2 separate regions of the Homo sapiens genome follow, and region 1 is linked to region 2. A link means that fine-mapping ties the variant in region 2 to the expression of a gene that starts in the linked region. Tissue or cell type: esophagus muscle. Region 2 holds a variant in brackets; the other region holds the start of a gene. All regions are shown on one strand. Distances are between the middles of the regions.

Region 1 (8,106 bases), 120 kb after region 2:
ACTGGCAACATGGACCCCTTATCTGGATACAGTGGCAGAAAAGAAAGCTCTGCAAGAAGTTCCCGTAAAGCATGTCCTTGCCCTTAGTGCCCATTTCCTCCTCTGTCAAATGAGGCAAATACTTCCAGCCCTGATGAGATAATGGCCTCATCAGCAGGGCAACTCTGACGGTGTGGGTGAGGCTGTTCTAGGTTTCGCGCTGCCAGGCAGCGCCTCTCTCCTAGCCTCCGTTTTCTCATCTGCCAAGTGGGGCAGTAAGCCCTGCCCTGGTGACTCCATTGCCAAGGAGAGGGGAGGCGTGAGCGGACTTATGGATTGGGGTAGAGTTGGGTGCCAGGGGGCTGAGAACACATGTGAGGGACCTGAATCTTGCCATATTAACTAAGGGCGATGGTTTCTGTAGTACCGTTTCTGCTATCCAACAAGGCCTTGTAAACAAATATAACGTCTGGGCCCACCCAGGAGGAGCTGGTGAGTGCCTGAGGAGTAGATGGCCAGTGGGGATGGGTGAAGAACACATAGAATAGTGACATCTGATATGGCGCCCCTTGAACACACAGGCAAAGGAAGAGATGGGGCATTTTGAGTCACATGGATTGGGGTAGGACTGTTTCCCCCCAAAAAGGCTTTTTGAGTTATGTTGTAAAGATGTCAGAGGGAGACTCACATTTAAGACTGAAGCTCTCCTTCCTTCACACCCTTGCCAGGACTCCCTCTGACCACCCCAATCCCTGCCCCCCTCCGTTTGTGGTCCCTCTGCCCATTGCCATGAGGAGAGTGTCCAATCCAATATCAGTCAGTTCCACAAATGTTTACTGAGCCCTTTGGAAAATAAAACACAACTCCAAATATTAAATTTACTTAGCACTCTGCAGTTTACAGAGCACTTCCAAATGCATTCTGTGGTCACTACAATAACCCTGAAAGGAAAAAAAGATGATTATCTCTCACTCCACAAAAAAGAAACTGAGGGTCAGAGAAGAGAGACAACTTGCTCAAGGCCATTTGATTGGAGGTTGCCTGACTCCTGGAGCTGCTCTTCCCCGTCTCCTTGCTGCCTTGCTGTCATGTCACCTGCTGTCTCACTGGGTCATTTGGGCGTGTGCCCCTCGCACGCCTGTATCTTCCCAACTGGTGTCAGCTCGAAACCCTCTGTGGTCTGCAGTGCTCAGCCTGGCTTTCCAGGTCTGGGCAGCTCCCTCCTTCCAGATCCTGCCTGTGATTCCAGCTCCTTTCCCTTGCTGTACAAAGTTCCCACCTCTGCACTTTGCCTCACTCTTTCTTCCTGCCCACTGGTACGTATCCCAGTCCTTCCCACACTTCAGGTCTCCCTCGGCTGCACAGGAGGCTCAAATCCAGCATAGATTCCTGAAGTCCTGGGTCCAAGTTCTAGCTCTGCTACTGACTTCTTGTGACTGTGTGACCTTGGGCAGGTCACTTTCCCTCTCTGGGCCTCCATTTCATCACTATGAAATAGGAGTGTTGAACACAATACTCTAAATGCATCTCCATGTGGTCTAAGTACCCCCCTCCCCGGCCCCTCCCTGCCCTTCCCCCTCCTCTGATCATCCTGTGTGCTCACCATCCACAATCCCCTCTCCTGGCTCCACATCATTCTCCAAAGGGTTCATGTTCAATCATTCAGTTAGACTTTAAACTCCCTAAGAGCAGAGGAGGGTGATTTTGGCCAAGATATGCAGATCGATTCATCAGTAATCCACTGACCACCTCCATTTAGGTTGGGAGCCTCTTTATCTTCCCTCTTTAGTTTCTTCAAGGTGCACACACAGATACCTACAGCAGGCAGGAATCCAGGTGGGGCACCAGGCATCTCTGCTCACCTTGGCTGCTGGTGGTGGGGTGCCTGCCTGTGCTGTGCATGCTGCAGCTTTGGCAGGGTGGCCAATCAGTCCAGTGCCAGCCTTTGCCTCCCAGAGAATGCTTCACACCCTATTCTTCCCCCAAACCCATCACTGGCCCAGACATCAAAAGCACACATCCCTGTGCTATTCCCCTTCAAAGAGCTTCATATCTAATATCTCACTGAGTCCCCCGACTAGCCTTGGAAAGGCAAAGCAGGGATTATTAATCTCCATTTTGTAGATGGTGAGGGTCTTGTCCAAGGCTACTCTGAATTCAGCATAGAGCTGGGACTGGGCTCCACTCTTGTGTCCAGTCATTCTTGTCAAACTCTGGTCTGTGGAATATACATGCCTGCCTCTGTGTAGGCCCCAGTCTCTTTCCCTTTAAGAACTTGGGTCTGAGAGGACAAGCGCATGTCGCACGCACACACACACGCACATGCATACACACCCTTACAAGATGCACAGCCACCAAAAAGCCTAATAAAGCAAGGTGCCCAAGACCACGGTTCAGGATCCGTAAAAATGGCCGGAGATAATTGACTGCAACCTATTCACTGCAAATGGGGCAACTTGGGCCCACAAAGGGCCAGAGACTTGACCCGAGTCACAGAGTAGACTAGAGCCCAGGTCTCTGGACTCCCAGTCCTGTGCTCTCTCCACTGTGTGTGCCCTCAGCAAACAAGGCAAGGCAGGGAGGAGCAGGAGCTCAGAGAGCCTGGGGCTGAAGGGTGGGAGGAAAGAGCCTGGTGGGGGACTTCGGTCCACAGGTGTGGATGTTCCAACCTTTCTCTGGCAGGGTCGGGGTGGGGGCACCAGGTAGCTGCAACCTGTTCCTTCAGCACCTGGGAGGAGACACAGAGTCTGGTTCCCTGAAGCCAAATGTTTCTTCTTTGTCCTCTGTGTCCCTTCATCTCTTATAGCTGTGTCCACTGAGTGGCAGAGGTCCAGGCCCAGCGCCTTCCAGTCTAGGAGCCTGTGACCTGGGACAGGATCCCTGGGGAAAGGGTGAGGGCTGGCAAAGGGCCCGCCACCCTGAGCACTCCAAGAGACAGGGGTGGAACTCACTTCAAGGATTCAGGGCGGCGAGGATCCTCTCCCACCGGCGAAGCGGACACCGCGGTGGGGCTGCGAGTACCCAGTTGTTGTTTTTTTCTCCTTCCCTGTTCTCCACCCCATGCACTTTTCCGAGGGGCAAGCTCCGCAGTTCTCCCATCAAGGAGGCTCTCCAGGCTCCCTGCCGGCCTTCGGCTCCTGGGGTGGAGGTGGGCGTGGGGTACATGGGCCCTAGGAGAATGGGGTGTGAGAGACTCCCCTGGGCTTATGGCTTTGGTGGCACCTCAGGCTGTGGAATGGGGTGGCGAGTCTTTGGAAGTCACAGAGCCCAGGGTCGGTGGCACGTGATGAGGCGCAGGCCTGGCTCAGGGGGTGGTGCCCACGGCCCTCGGCTCCTCCCCCGGGGCCGCCCCGCCCCGCGCGGGAGGGGACGGGCGGGGACCGGCATGGGTAGGCGCGGCGACCCGCAGGGCCAGGTGCAGGGCCCGCGAGTCCGGGGTCGCCGCAGCCCGGGAGGAGTGTCTGGTCTCCGGCCTGCCTGTGCTGTCCCCGCGCCCTGTCCACTGGACTCCCGAGACCCTTGGAACCCAGGTAACCCGGGGCGGGACTCCCCGCCGCGCGCCGCCTCCCCACCTCCCGGTCCACGCGCACCCGCCCTCCGCGGCAGCCCCAGCCGCCCTGCGCCCGTGGAGCCCGTTGAGCCTGGGTGGCCGCTCCGAGGGCGGGTCTGGGAAAGTTTGTGCCGGGGCGGCCCTGATCCGGCGGCGGCGCGGCTCGGCCACTTTCACCGCACGCGGGGCCGGTGTGAAGGTGGGGCGGCCGCCGCCGTGCAGAAGGCTCTCTGCTGCAATCGAGGGCGGTGAGGGGAGCTGTTGCCTTCTCGCACCTTTTCTCTCACTCTCCAGGGCGTTTGCGCCGCTTATCCTTCCTCCACCGCCCCCCTCCCGCCGCCCCCACTTTAATAAAACCCTTGGATTGGGGCTGCACAGTTGGCGATTTCTTTACACCTGTGCTTCCCGCCTCCTGAGCCCAGATGTGAGCCTGGGCTGAGCAGGACCGTGTGGGTGAGGGGCGGCCCACTGCCTGCGGGGGTCGTCCCGGCCCTGTTGAAGTGGGTGCCCAGCTACAGGGAGTTCCCCCTGCTCTGTCATTGGCCTCCCCCCGGCCACAGCCCCCAGCTGGGCATCTCCTGGCTCCCCTAGCACTTCCCAAGTCCTAGTCGGATGAGCCCAGGAGAGGGGGTGGACCCCGGCCCAGCAGAACAAGAACTCAGGAGCCCGGTAACTCTTATCCGTGAGCAGAACCGGCTTCCTCCCGCTTAGGTTGGGAGGAGGGCTCAGCTTAGTGGGAGTCGGGGGTGACAACTGCCCCTTCCCACGCAGAGCCATAGAGAAGAGATGGGGAGAGGTCAGGGGATCTGAGAAGAGCTAGCAGCCAAAAAGGGACACATCCCTGATTTCATTTGAACCTAACAAACCAATGGCGAGTAGATATTAACACATGGGCAGATGAGAAGACAAGGAGGCCCAACAAAGCTCAGCCATTTGCTGGAGAAACTGGTGGGCTTTTCTCCACCACTGAGTGGCGGGTTTCCCACCGCATCCTTCCAGAGCTGCATGGTCGCTTCTGCATTCTTGCAGTGCCCTTGACTCAGCAGAGGTTTGTTTCTTTTACCCCACTCCCCACCCCCCTAGGTTCTGCCTGTGAAAGAGGTTCAGGGGAGAGGGCACCTCCAAGCAGACACAAACTCCAGTCAGTAAGGTCCTCCAAGAGCCAGCCAGAGCCTTGCTAAGCTCCCAGAACTGCAGGAGGGCAGGGACCTGCTTTGTTCCCTGCAGGGACCTGCTTTGTTCCCTGCCGTAGCAATAGTACCTGGCACACGGAAGGTGCTCTGCGAGAATGGAATGATTAGCCTGCAACAGCAAAGCTTCTTTTCCAACTGCCTTATCTCTGCCCTTGGCAAGCAGAAAGGGCACTCTGAAAAGTTGGATCAGAAAGGTGTCCAGCCCCACCACTGAGATCCCTTGGCACCCTTACCCACGTGGGGCAACATTTTCCCCTTACACCAAGAGTACATCCTTAATCCCGTATGCTTTTCTTTCTTTCTCTTTCTTTCTTTCTTTCCTTCTTTCTTTCTTTCTTTCTTTCTTTCTTTCTTTCTTTCTTTCTTTCTTTCTTTCTTTCTTTTCTTTCTTTCTTTCATTCTTTCTCTTCCTTCCTCCCTCCCTCTCTCTCTCTCTTTCTTTCTTTCTTTCTTTCTTTCTTTCTTTCTTTCTTTCTTTCATTCTTTCTCTTCCTTCCTCCCTCCCTCTCTCTCTCTCTTTCTTTCTTTCTTTCCTTCTTTCCTTCCTTCCTTCCTTCCTTCCTTTAGTTCGTTTTCTTTCTTTCTTTCTTTCTTTCTTTCTTTCTTTCTTTCTTTCTTTCTTTCTTCCTTCCTTCCTTCCTTCCTTTCTCTCTCTCTCTCTCTCTCTCTCTTTCTTTCCTTCTTTCTTTCTTTCTTTCTTTCTTTCTTTCTTTCTTTCTTTCTTTCTTTCTTTCTTTCTTTCTTCTTTCTTTTTGACTGAGTCTTGCTCTATTACCCAGGCTAGAGTGCAAGGGCGAGATCTCAGCTAACTGCAACCTCCGCCTCCCGGGTTCAAGCAATTCTCTTGCCTCAGCCTCCCGAGTAGCTGGGATTACAGGCGCCTGCCACCAAACACAGCTAATTTTTGCATTTTTAGTAGAGACAGGGTTTCACCATGTTGGCCAGGTTGGTCTCGAACTGCTAACATCAGATGACCCACCCGGGTTGGCCTCCCAAAGTGCTGGGATTGCAGGCGTGAGCCACTGCACCCAGCCCCCATGTGCTTTTCCAGAGAGACAGAGGACTTTCACTTTACCCTTGTCCCGCCAAGGAGAGGCCGAGGCTGGTGGGTTCCATGCCAAGCTTGGCTCTACCCTAGACTGAGGCAGAGCAACTTTGTCCCTTTACGTAGAATTCTTATGCATCCCTCTGGGGGTAAGAATTGGAATTGGAATTATTTGGAAACTTTAATCTTCATTGTCTCCTCTCTCTCCTTACCACTCCATGGGGCAGCTATGTATTGAGGGAAGAGAAGGTGCTTTTCTGGGCCTCAATTTCCTCATCTGTAAAATGAGAGCAACAGACCCTGTGTGGTTTTAGGAGATAGTAAGTGGTTCCAAAGGACTCTGTGGGCTGCAAATCAAACTGTAAGAGCGGATTGTTATTTTCTCATGTGTATTAGCCTGGCCTCCCTGGTTGGCGGTAAGTCCTTTCTCAGCATCTTGGCATCCCTCATTCATCCTGAGTACACAGAAGGTTTACAAGACATGTTTTCAAAAATGATCCGTACAGGAAGAGAAAAATTGTGAATTCATAAGAAATGGGGGGAGATTTTTTTTTTTTTTTTTTTTTTTTTTTTTTTTTTTTTAGCACAGTGTTAGGAGTCAAGAATGGTGGCAGGAAACTGGGCAGGGCCATGCGTGAGTACAGGGACAGCTCTCAGGGGTGGTGGGGGTGGTAGGTTTGTGCATGGGCTTGAGCCCCAGTCTGTCTCTCAGCGGCTTCCTCCAGGAAACAAAACTGACCAACTCCGGGTTGGTCAGATATATATATTTGAGACAGGGTGTTGCTCTGTCTCAACAGAGCAGGCTGCAGTGCAGTAGCATGATCTCAGCTCACTGCAACCTCCGCCTCCCGGTCTCGAGCTATCTTCCTCACCTCAGCCTCCTTAGTAGCTGGGACTATAGGCATGCACCACCGTGCCCAGCTAATTTTTGTATTTTTTGTAGAGGTGGGGTCTCACTATGTTGCCCAGGCTGCTCTCGAACTCCTGAGTTCAAGCGATCTGTCTGCCTCTACCTCCCAAAGTGCTGGGATTACAGGTGTGATCCACCATGCCCAGCCAGAAATGGGGACTTTCAAATTCCTCTCCCTCCCTCCCCATGTAAGGGGAGGGGACACCCCACCATGCAGGGGAGGATCAGTAGGAGGGAAGGAAGGGTCTGAGAGCCCCTGTAGTTGGAGGTGGCCAGTGTCTTGTTCATCGAAGGCCAGGGCAAAGTGAGGGATGTAGAAGAGTCACTGGCAGTGCCCTGAGGATGCTGCCCACCTTGCTTTGAAGAAATCCACCCCTCAGTCAGGACTTTTGGGGCCCTGCCAGGAACCCTGTGTGACCCCTGGACTCCTCAGCAGACCCAGGTGTCTGCCTTTGACTTGAGGACAGGCCAGCACACCTGGGGTTAGTCAGTTCTGTTTCCTGGAGGAAGCCGCTGAGAGACTGACTGGGGCTCAAGCCCGTGAACAAACCCACCATCCCCACCACCCCTGAGAGCTGTCCCTGTACTCACGCATGGCCCTGCCCAGTTTCCTGCCACCATTCTTGACTCCTAACAAGGATGCAGCAGAGTAAGAGCTTTAGACCCAGAGTCTCTAAGCTGGACTAATCCTTAGCAGCCATGTCCCCCTGCTTCTTCTTTGCTTCATTTTCCATGGCTCACATCCCCTTCTGATGGCCTATAGATTTCACTCCTTAATCTTGTTTGCCATCTGTCCTCCCTGTTAGAATAGCAGCTCTGTGAGGGCAAAGCCTTTTGTCTCTCTCGTTCCATGGTCTCTCCCAAGAGATCAGAGTGTAGTAGGTGCTCAGTTAACACGTGCTGAGTAGATGAACACATCCAATGCACCATTTCTCAGTATACAGATGGGGAGACTGAGACCCAGAGGCGAGGAGTGACTCTTGGAGGCAGAGCTGGAGCTTTTCCTAATTAGACTCAAGTTAATTCAAATTTGGGTCTCTGTCTCCCACTTTGAATTACCTTGGTTGCTAGGGGTGCTTAAGAGGCCCTTGGCAAGAACCTTCAGGCCAGCTGCCTCCAGAGTTACCCAAAGGGGCAGCTCCCAGACTGAATGGACAGCCGCCACATGAGGCGATTGGTGAGTTCCAGGAAGGAGTCATCCCCACCAGACCTCCATCCTCAAAGAAAACCTCCCAGGGTTGCTCTCCCAAGGCAGCCAATTCCTCTGCTAGTGAGTTCTCTCTTGGTGAAAATAGTGCCCTCTTCAGGCAGCCTTTTAAAATTCCCCAGTGCAATTAAAAAAAAAAAAAGCACATCCAATCAATCAATCAATCAATCAGTCAGTCAATCAATTCTCCAGTGCACTGGAGAACTAAGGAAGTCCAAAGCC
Region 2 (8,106 bases):
AATTTACAGACTCGGTGGTTGAATTTTAGCTAATGTTGAAACTCTTAATAGCATGAGAAAAAGCCTATGCAGAATTTCCATGTTTAGTTTCTACTTTTTTTCTTTAGCAATATGATCTTTAGTCTTCATCTGATGTATTGTAAAATTTACAAATAATAGTAATATACCCACTTTAAAAATGAAAAATAAGAAAAAGATTTTTCCATCATCCTCACATTCTTAATACCACCATCTCCTAAATTTTGGAGTCTCCCTTTTGTTGTTTTTCAATGCATATGCCAATGTCTTTGTCATTAGCCCTCAGAAGTGGCAAATAATTTTAAAATGTGTATTTCAAAACGAAATTTCTTTTTAGAAAATCAGGAGATACATTCTAGTAAATGTACTTACTGGACCTCAGTAGTGTACTTTTTACTTTGTTACATTCATATGAACACCAAAAAGTTTAATGAATAAAATAGAATATATTTTAACATGTTTAAGAAGTATGTCTGTGACAACATCTAATTGAGCTGTTGATGAAGTTAGTTTATAGTCATCAGCTTCATTTTCTATATTCTTCATTCCCTGTACAAAATACTTGTCATACCCAGTGGGTGTTCCAGACTTAGCATGTTTTAAAATCAAGGTAGCATTGTCATATTTTGTTTTGATTGGCTTTTGCTCAGGGGAAGTTTGGGTCCATATCAGAGATCTGTTTGCCTTCTTCACTGAAGCTAATGACTTTCTGTTATGTGATAGGCTTTCACTGCTTCTTCATGTGGGGGCATCTCTGCAATGTAAATTGCTATTTTCCAGTTATTTTACTTAAATTAAAACAAATAAAGTTTCTGAAGACACTCAGGAAATGTGTGAATTTACTGAGTATATAACCTTAGAACCCTTGAGCAGGAAAACATCAAATCACAAATAGGGAGGTGAGTATACTGGCTGGCAAATCTTACATTGTACTTTGTCATGTAACACTGTTCACTTACTCATTTTTAGAAGCTACATGTGCATTATATACTAATGGTATATCTCTCAAATAATTGAAATAATGAAAAATTGATAATTCAGAGCCACTTTTTATTTGGCATGGGATGTGATTGTTTTTGCATTACCACATATTAAAGTCTAAAAGGAGTTAAATTTTGTGATCTAGTAGTTTTCAGTGGAACCTTGTTTTTTTTTTTTTTTTTTTTTTTTGAGACAGGGTCTTGTTCTGTTGCCCAGGCTGGAGTGCAGTGGTGTGATTTCGGGCTCACTGCAACCTCCACCTCCTGGGTTCAAGCGCTTCTCCTGCCTCAGCCTCCCAAGTAGCTGGGACTGCAGGTGGGCAATACCACACCTGGCTAATTTTTGTATTTTTAGTAGAGACAGGGTTTCACCATGTTGGCCAGGCTGGTCTCAAACTCCTGACCTCAGATGATCTGCCCACCTCAGCCACCCAAAGTACTGGGATTACAGGCATGCGTCAGCCACCACCCCTGGCCCATTTTTGTTTTTTTTCCTCAAACATCTATATGGCACTGCAATATAGAATACAAATAAAAAGTAACATTTTTGTATAACTTTAAGTACATATTTATAACATTAACTTAGCATAAAGGGGATCAGTGACATTCAGGGTAGGCTCTTAAGTTGTCTTATCTTCACGACATTCTATTGCCACTTTATTCCTAGCATTTAACAGTGCCTCATACATAGCAGATTCCAAATGTATCTTAGTGAAATAAATGAATGAATGACTTAGGCCATTTTGATGTACTCAAGAATTTGAAATTGAATAACTGATAATGATTGTAGTTTCTCAATCTCTGCATTAAATTTCTATTTTGTTTTGATTGTACAATGTCCACCACAACTGGAAGAGTTGTTTTAGTTGGTTCTTGAGACTTAGAGTAGAATCAGGACACTCTCAAATTGAACTATGACTTTGAAAAAAGAAGTGGATAATGTTTCAAACCTGAATCAGGAACATTTCATATTTGCTTTTTTTTTTTTTTTGAGACAGTCTCTTTGTCACCTAGGCTGGAGTGCAATGGTGCAATCTCGGCTCTCTGCAACCTTTGCCTCCTGGGTTCAAGCGATTCTTGTGCCTCAGCCTTCCGAGTAGCTGGGATTATAGGCATGCGCCACCACACCCAGCTAATTTTTGTATTTTAGTAGAGACGGGGTTTCACCACGCCCAGCTAATTTTTGTATTTTTAGTAGAGACAGAGTTTTGCCATGTTACCAGGCTGGTCTCAAACTCCTGACTTCAGGTGATCCATCTGCCTTGGTCTCCCAAAGTGCTGAGATTACTGGTGTGAGCCACTGCACCCGGCCTTGCTTGTGTTCTTTATGATGAATATAAAAGAAGTTAAACAGGAGATATCACCATTTTTTGATAATTTTTAAAACAATAGTACAATATGTTATGAGTCCCTTAGTATAACAGCTTCACTGAAGTATAACTGGCATATAGTGAATTACACAATTTAGTAAGTTTTGATGTAGGTATATACCTGTGAAATCATTACCACATTCAAAATAGTGACCATACCCATCATCTCCAGAAGTTTCTTCATGCATGCCCCTTTATTATCTTTACTTCATGCCCCTTTATTATCTTTACCTCATGCCCCTTTATTATCTTTACTTCATGCCCCTTTATCATCTTTACTTCATGCCGCTTTATCATCTTTACTTCATGCCGCTTTATCATCTTTACTTCATGCCCCTCCACACTCCACCCTCTCAAAGTAACCATTGATCTACTTAATGTAACTACAGATTGATTGTTTTGTATTTTCTAGAGTTTTATATAAATGGAATTACATAGTATGTACTTTTCTTTATAGTCTGGCTTCTTTCACTCAAATAATTATTTTGAGATTCTTCTCTGTTGTTGCATGTATAAATAATTCATTCATTTTTTGTAGTAATATCCCATTATATGGGTATACCAAAATTTATCATTCATTTGCTGATGAGCATTTGGGTTATTTACAGTTTTATTTACAAATAAAGCTGTTACGAATATTAGTGTACGAGTCTTTATATGGACATATATTTTCATTTCTTTTGGTTAAATAGGATGACTAGGTCACAGGGTAGGTATCTGTTTTACCTTTTTTGGGAATAACATATTTATCATAAAGGGCTAATTTTCTTAATACACAAAGAGATCTTGTAGCTCGGTAAGAGTAAGATCAAAAATCCAACAGAAAAATGGGCAGAGGACAAAACCAGGTAGCTAATATCAAAAAATATACAAATGGCTTTAAGCATAAGAAAATATTTTTGGAAAGCTGAACAAAAAACTTAATATGTTGTTTAAAATTTAAACCTCTAGAGTCAGTCTGCTTGGGTTTGCATATTCTCTAACAATCAGTGTAATCAAGTTCCCTAACCTTCCTGTGTTTCAGTTTTCTCATCAGTAAAATGTGGCTAATAATAGCAATATCATCTACCTCAAGGGACTGTTATGAGTATTAGATAAGTTAATATATGTGGAGTTCTCAGAACAATATCTGACACACAGTAAGTGCTCTATGGAAGTTTATTTTTATTATTATTCAAATGCAAATTTAAACAGGAGAACATTTTTTGATTATCAGATTGACAAGGATTAAAAAGCTCAATAATACACAACACTGGCAAAGATATCTAGAATCACTGTTATATACTGTAGGCAGGAACACAAATTGTGCAATTTCTTTGGAGGACAAGTTGACTTTACATGTTAAAATGATAAATATTCATACTTTTTCATTCAATTTTAAATAATTTATCTTTGCTCTTTATAGTATTAATTATATTGTCAAAAAACATATATGACTCTTAGTAGGGGTCTGGTTAAATAAATGATGATATAGCCACACAATGGGATGTCATATAGTCATAAAAAAAGAAAAAAGGAGCACTTCTCCATAAGCTAATCTCTAAGACACATTATTGGGTTAAAAAAAAGTAAGTTGCAGAGCAGTGTTTATGGTATGCCGCTTATATTGCTGTAAATAAGTTGTGTATGTGTTGGTGTAAATACACATGCATATGCACACATTAATAAACATATTTTGCTTCAAAATGCATAGACTTTTCTAGAAGGATACACAAGAAAGGGAATAGTTCCTTCTGAAGAGGGACTAAAAGAAGGGACCAGGAGATTGGAAATCAGATCTCGGTATGACTGTGGTTGGGTTTGGTTGTGTACACTTTTATACTGCTTGAGTATTTATTTCTTGTCAAGAGAATATTACATTAAAAGAATTTGTAGTATGTAATTATAGATTCACAGGAAGTTGGAAAATTCGTGCAGAGAGGTACCATATACCCTTCATCCAATTTCAAACCCTGCTGGTAACATCTTATATAACCCTAGTGCACTATCAAAACCATGAAATTGATGTTGGACAATCCAAAGACTTTATTCAGATTTCACCAGTTTTACAGGCACTCATTGTATGTGTGTAATTGTTTGCAGTTTTATCATGTGTAGTTTTGACCACCACAGTCAAGATACAGAACTGTTTCATCACAACAGAAATCCCTGTGCCATCCCTATATAGTCATATCTCTCATCCTAACCACTGACAACGTAACTCCTGGCCTTAAAGAGCATATAGTTTTATAGGGGAGATAATAGAGATATACCAACAATTCAGTACAAAGAACAACACAAGTGGCTGTGTGCAGTGGCTCATGCCTGCAATCCCAGCACTTCAGGAAGCCAAGGCGGGTGGATCACTTGAGAGGTCAGGAGTTCAAGACCAGCCTGGCTAACATGGCGAAACCCTGTCTCTACTAAAAATACAAAAATTAGCTGGGCGTGGTGGTGCATGCCTGTAGTCCCAGCTACTCAGGAGGCTGAGGCACAAGAATTGCTTGAGCCTGGGAAGTGGAGGTTGCAGTGAGCTGTGAATGCGCCACTGCACTCCAGCCTGGACGACAGAGTGAGACTCTGTCTCAAAAACCAATACCA[TA/T]ACAAGTGCCAAAAGAACGTATTTATTGCTTTGAGAGTTATGAGTGATCAAATATTAAAAAAGGATCAGAAAAATCTTCATGGAAATAATTAGTATAGTTATAAGGAGAACTGGCTATAGTTCTGATTCTGCATTAAACACCACTAACTAACCAGATGTATAAAATAAGAAAGTTGAGAGAAAGATTTTTTTAGTGGTCCCTTTTAGTATAGTCTTAATACTGTGGATAATTTGGCATCATCCTTGAAGGAGGGCTATGATTTTATTCATTTATCAAATATTTGACCATTTTATGCCAGGCACTGCTCTAGGCTCTGTAAGTACCTCAGTGAACAAAACAGACAAAAATCCCTACCCCTACCCTGAGAAGACATACATTTTAGATGAGTGAATTAAAAAAAATGTAAGTTTACAGCATGTTAGAAGATAAGTAGTAAAGAGGAAAAATAAACCAGGGAAGGGGGAATAAAGTATGGGAGGAGTTACACTTCTCTAAAGGATGGCCAGGAAAATTCACTGATAAGGTGACTTTTAAATAACATGAAGACAGTCAGTGAAGGAGATATGACACAAATACAAATCATTCTAGGCCCAGGGAATAGCAAATGCCAAGTCTCTGAGGTTGGAGCATGCCTGCGGTATTTACATTTGAAGAAGCTTGTCATTGGAGTTGAGTAAAGGACTGGGTAATATAGGATGAAGTCAGAAAGGTAATGATGGCACTGGTGATGGGCTGGTTGTGCTGCCAGGTCAAGCAAGGTCTTATAGACCATTTTAAGGACTTCAGCTTTTAGACTAAGTGATACGTGGTATAGAAAGACATTGGATGAGTTGGAACAGAATAGTGACATGATTGGACTTTTAAAGAGTCAGTCTGGCAACTGTTGAGAGTAGGCTAAAGGAGAACAAGGGCAGAAGCAGTGAAACCACCTAGGAGACTGTTGCAGTAATTCAGGTGAGAGGTGATGGCTTGGACCAAAATGGTAGTAGTGGTGGTGGTGAGTAATTGACATTTTGAGGTCAACAGGATTTGGGGGACTGGGAAGCAGGGAGAGAAAAAAGAGGGAGGCACAGAGGTTAAGGGTGATACAAAGTTTGTGGTCTGAGCACCTAGAAGGCTAGTTACCCATTTGCTGTTATGGGTAAAACTATGATGGAAGATTTTGGAGGAGAGAAGTTGGATCTTGGACAAAGTAAATTTAAGATATATCTTAGGTATTCTAAGTGAGATGACTGCTAACTATCTGAGTCTAGAGTTCAAAGGAAAGGAATGGGCTAGAGGTTTAAGTTTGGGAATTATGTATAGATGCTATTTAAAGAAATCAGATCAGATGACTTCACTAAGGGAGTAAGCATAAAGAGGCGAAGGTCCAGGACAGAGATTTGGAGCACTACAACATTTAAAGTTTGGGAAATGAAGAACTAGCAAAGGAAACTTAGAAGGAGAAATCACTGAGGCAAGAGGAAAACCAGGAGAACATGGAATCTTGGAAGCCAATGAAGAAAGTGTTTTGAGAGGAGGGAGTAATGAACCCCTTGTCAGATGCTGCTCATAGTTCCAGTAAAGAGAACTGGTAATTGAATTGGTCATTCTAGTTTGCAATGTGGAATTCATTAGTGATTCTGACAAGAGCAGGTTTGATAGAGTGGTGGGGAAATAGACTCATTGGAATGGATTCAAGAGAAAGGGAAGTGAGAAATTGGAGACATGCAGAAAGAATCATTTTTCTGAGGAATTTTGCTGAAGAGGGAGGGAGAGAAATAGAATAGTAACTTAAGAGAGATGTTCAAAGAGTTTTTTTGTTTTTTGTTTTTGTTTTGACGTGTTTGTAGGAGGCTGAGAAAAAAATGGAAAATTTGATGGGATAGACGAAGAGGTAGTGGTGGTTAATGGGGATCTAGTGTGTAAGTAAAAAGGTTGGGTCTTGGGTAGAGCAGAAATAGTTCACGCTAGTAATGAAAGAGGAATCAGAATATGTGGGCACAGACGTAGTTAGGTAGATGTGGTTTGAGAGTTTGTAGAAGTTCTTTTATTGCTTCTAGTATTTTATTAGTAAAATAGGACACAGGGTCATAAGATAAAAGTGAGGATGAGAGGGAAGGTGATGGAAGATTGAGGAGCAAAAAGTTGAAATAGTTATGTAAGAGAGTGGCAGAATGGATGAATCAGGAAAATAAGGTATAATTGTCAGTCAGCATTAAGGAAACTCATTTGAGGCTCCTGGCCACGAATTTAAAGAGAAACCAATTTATCAGACATCGTGTATTTGTGTGTGTGTGTGTGTGTGTGTGTGTGTGAGAGAGAGAGAGAGAGAGTGCATGTCCATCCAGCCACATGCAGCTGTGTAGGTATCAACACAGAATAGGCAGAAAATTGCGCTGAAAGAGAGAGAGAGAGAGAGAGAGTCCATCCAGCCACATGCAGCTCTGTAGGTATCAACATAGAATAGGCAGAAAATTGCATTGGTAACAACTAGCCAAGCAAGATTGACATAGTCAGAAGGAAGACAAGTAGTTAAGCATGTATGCAAAGGAAGGAAGGAAGTAAATGATTGAATATGGATTTAATTTGGGTAAGAAGGGGATTGAGGACATGGGAAGGTAAAAGGAAGTGCAGAAGTCATCAGATTAGTGGACTACAGGTCTGTTGGGTTGGCAGATTTTTTGGAGTTAGGATATTAGAGGTAGTGAGCTGGTATCAGAGTGTGATACTTAAAAATGGTATTTCGAGGCTGGGCATCATGCCTCATGTGTGTAATCCTAGCACTTCGGGAGGCTGAGGCAGGTGGATCACTTGAGGTCAGGAGATTGAGACCAGCCTGGCCAACATGGTGAAACCCCGTCTCTACAAAAAAATACAAAAATTAGTCGGGTGTGGTGGTGCGTGCCTGTAGTCCCAGCTACTCAGGAGGCTGAGGTGGGAGGATCACTTGAGTCCAGTGAGCTGTGATTGCACCACTGCACTCCAGCCTGGGCGACAGGGTGAGACCCTGTCTCAGAACAAAACAAAACAAAAAATGGCATTTTGGAAGGGTTGCATTTATTAAAATTGAGAAGGTTTAAGGTTTGACTGTATGGGAATGAGTATAAAATAGGGTTGAGGGAAGGATCAGTGGAAGATCCTAGATCTACTGAAGGGCAGAACTTCCTTTCTGAT

Direction of the effects. Alleles are on the strand shown, and positions count from the first base shown. SD is a standard deviation of normalised expression in the study named.
With allele TA in place of T in region 2, the expression in esophagus muscle of the gene that starts at base 3,365 in region 1 is lower (large effect, 1.6 SD a copy in GTEx).

Evidence for each region. PIP is the estimated chance that this variant, and not a neighbour inherited with it, causes the effect.
Region 1: it holds the start of PAQR5, and the variant in region 2 is fine-mapped to the expression of PAQR5 in esophagus muscle (GTEx, PIP 0.91).

What each region holds. Positions count from the first base shown.
Region 1 is chr15:69,295,548-69,303,653 of GRCh38, forward strand. It overlaps PAQR5 (progestin and adipoQ receptor family member 5), which reads left to right and starts at 3,365. Exons shown (of 9, transcript NM_017705.4): 1 at 3,365-3,509. It overlaps PAQR5-DT (PAQR5 divergent transcript), which reads right to left and starts at 3,216. Exons shown (of 3, transcript NR_184010.1): 1 at 2,931-3,216.
Region 2 is chr15:69,175,053-69,183,158 of GRCh38, forward strand. All of the region lies in intron 1 of GLCE (glucuronic acid epimerase), which reads left to right. Among named protein-coding and RNA genes, the nearest start is that of GLCE, 18 kb to the left of the region's middle. The variant TA/T (reference allele first, on the strand shown) is at 4,949.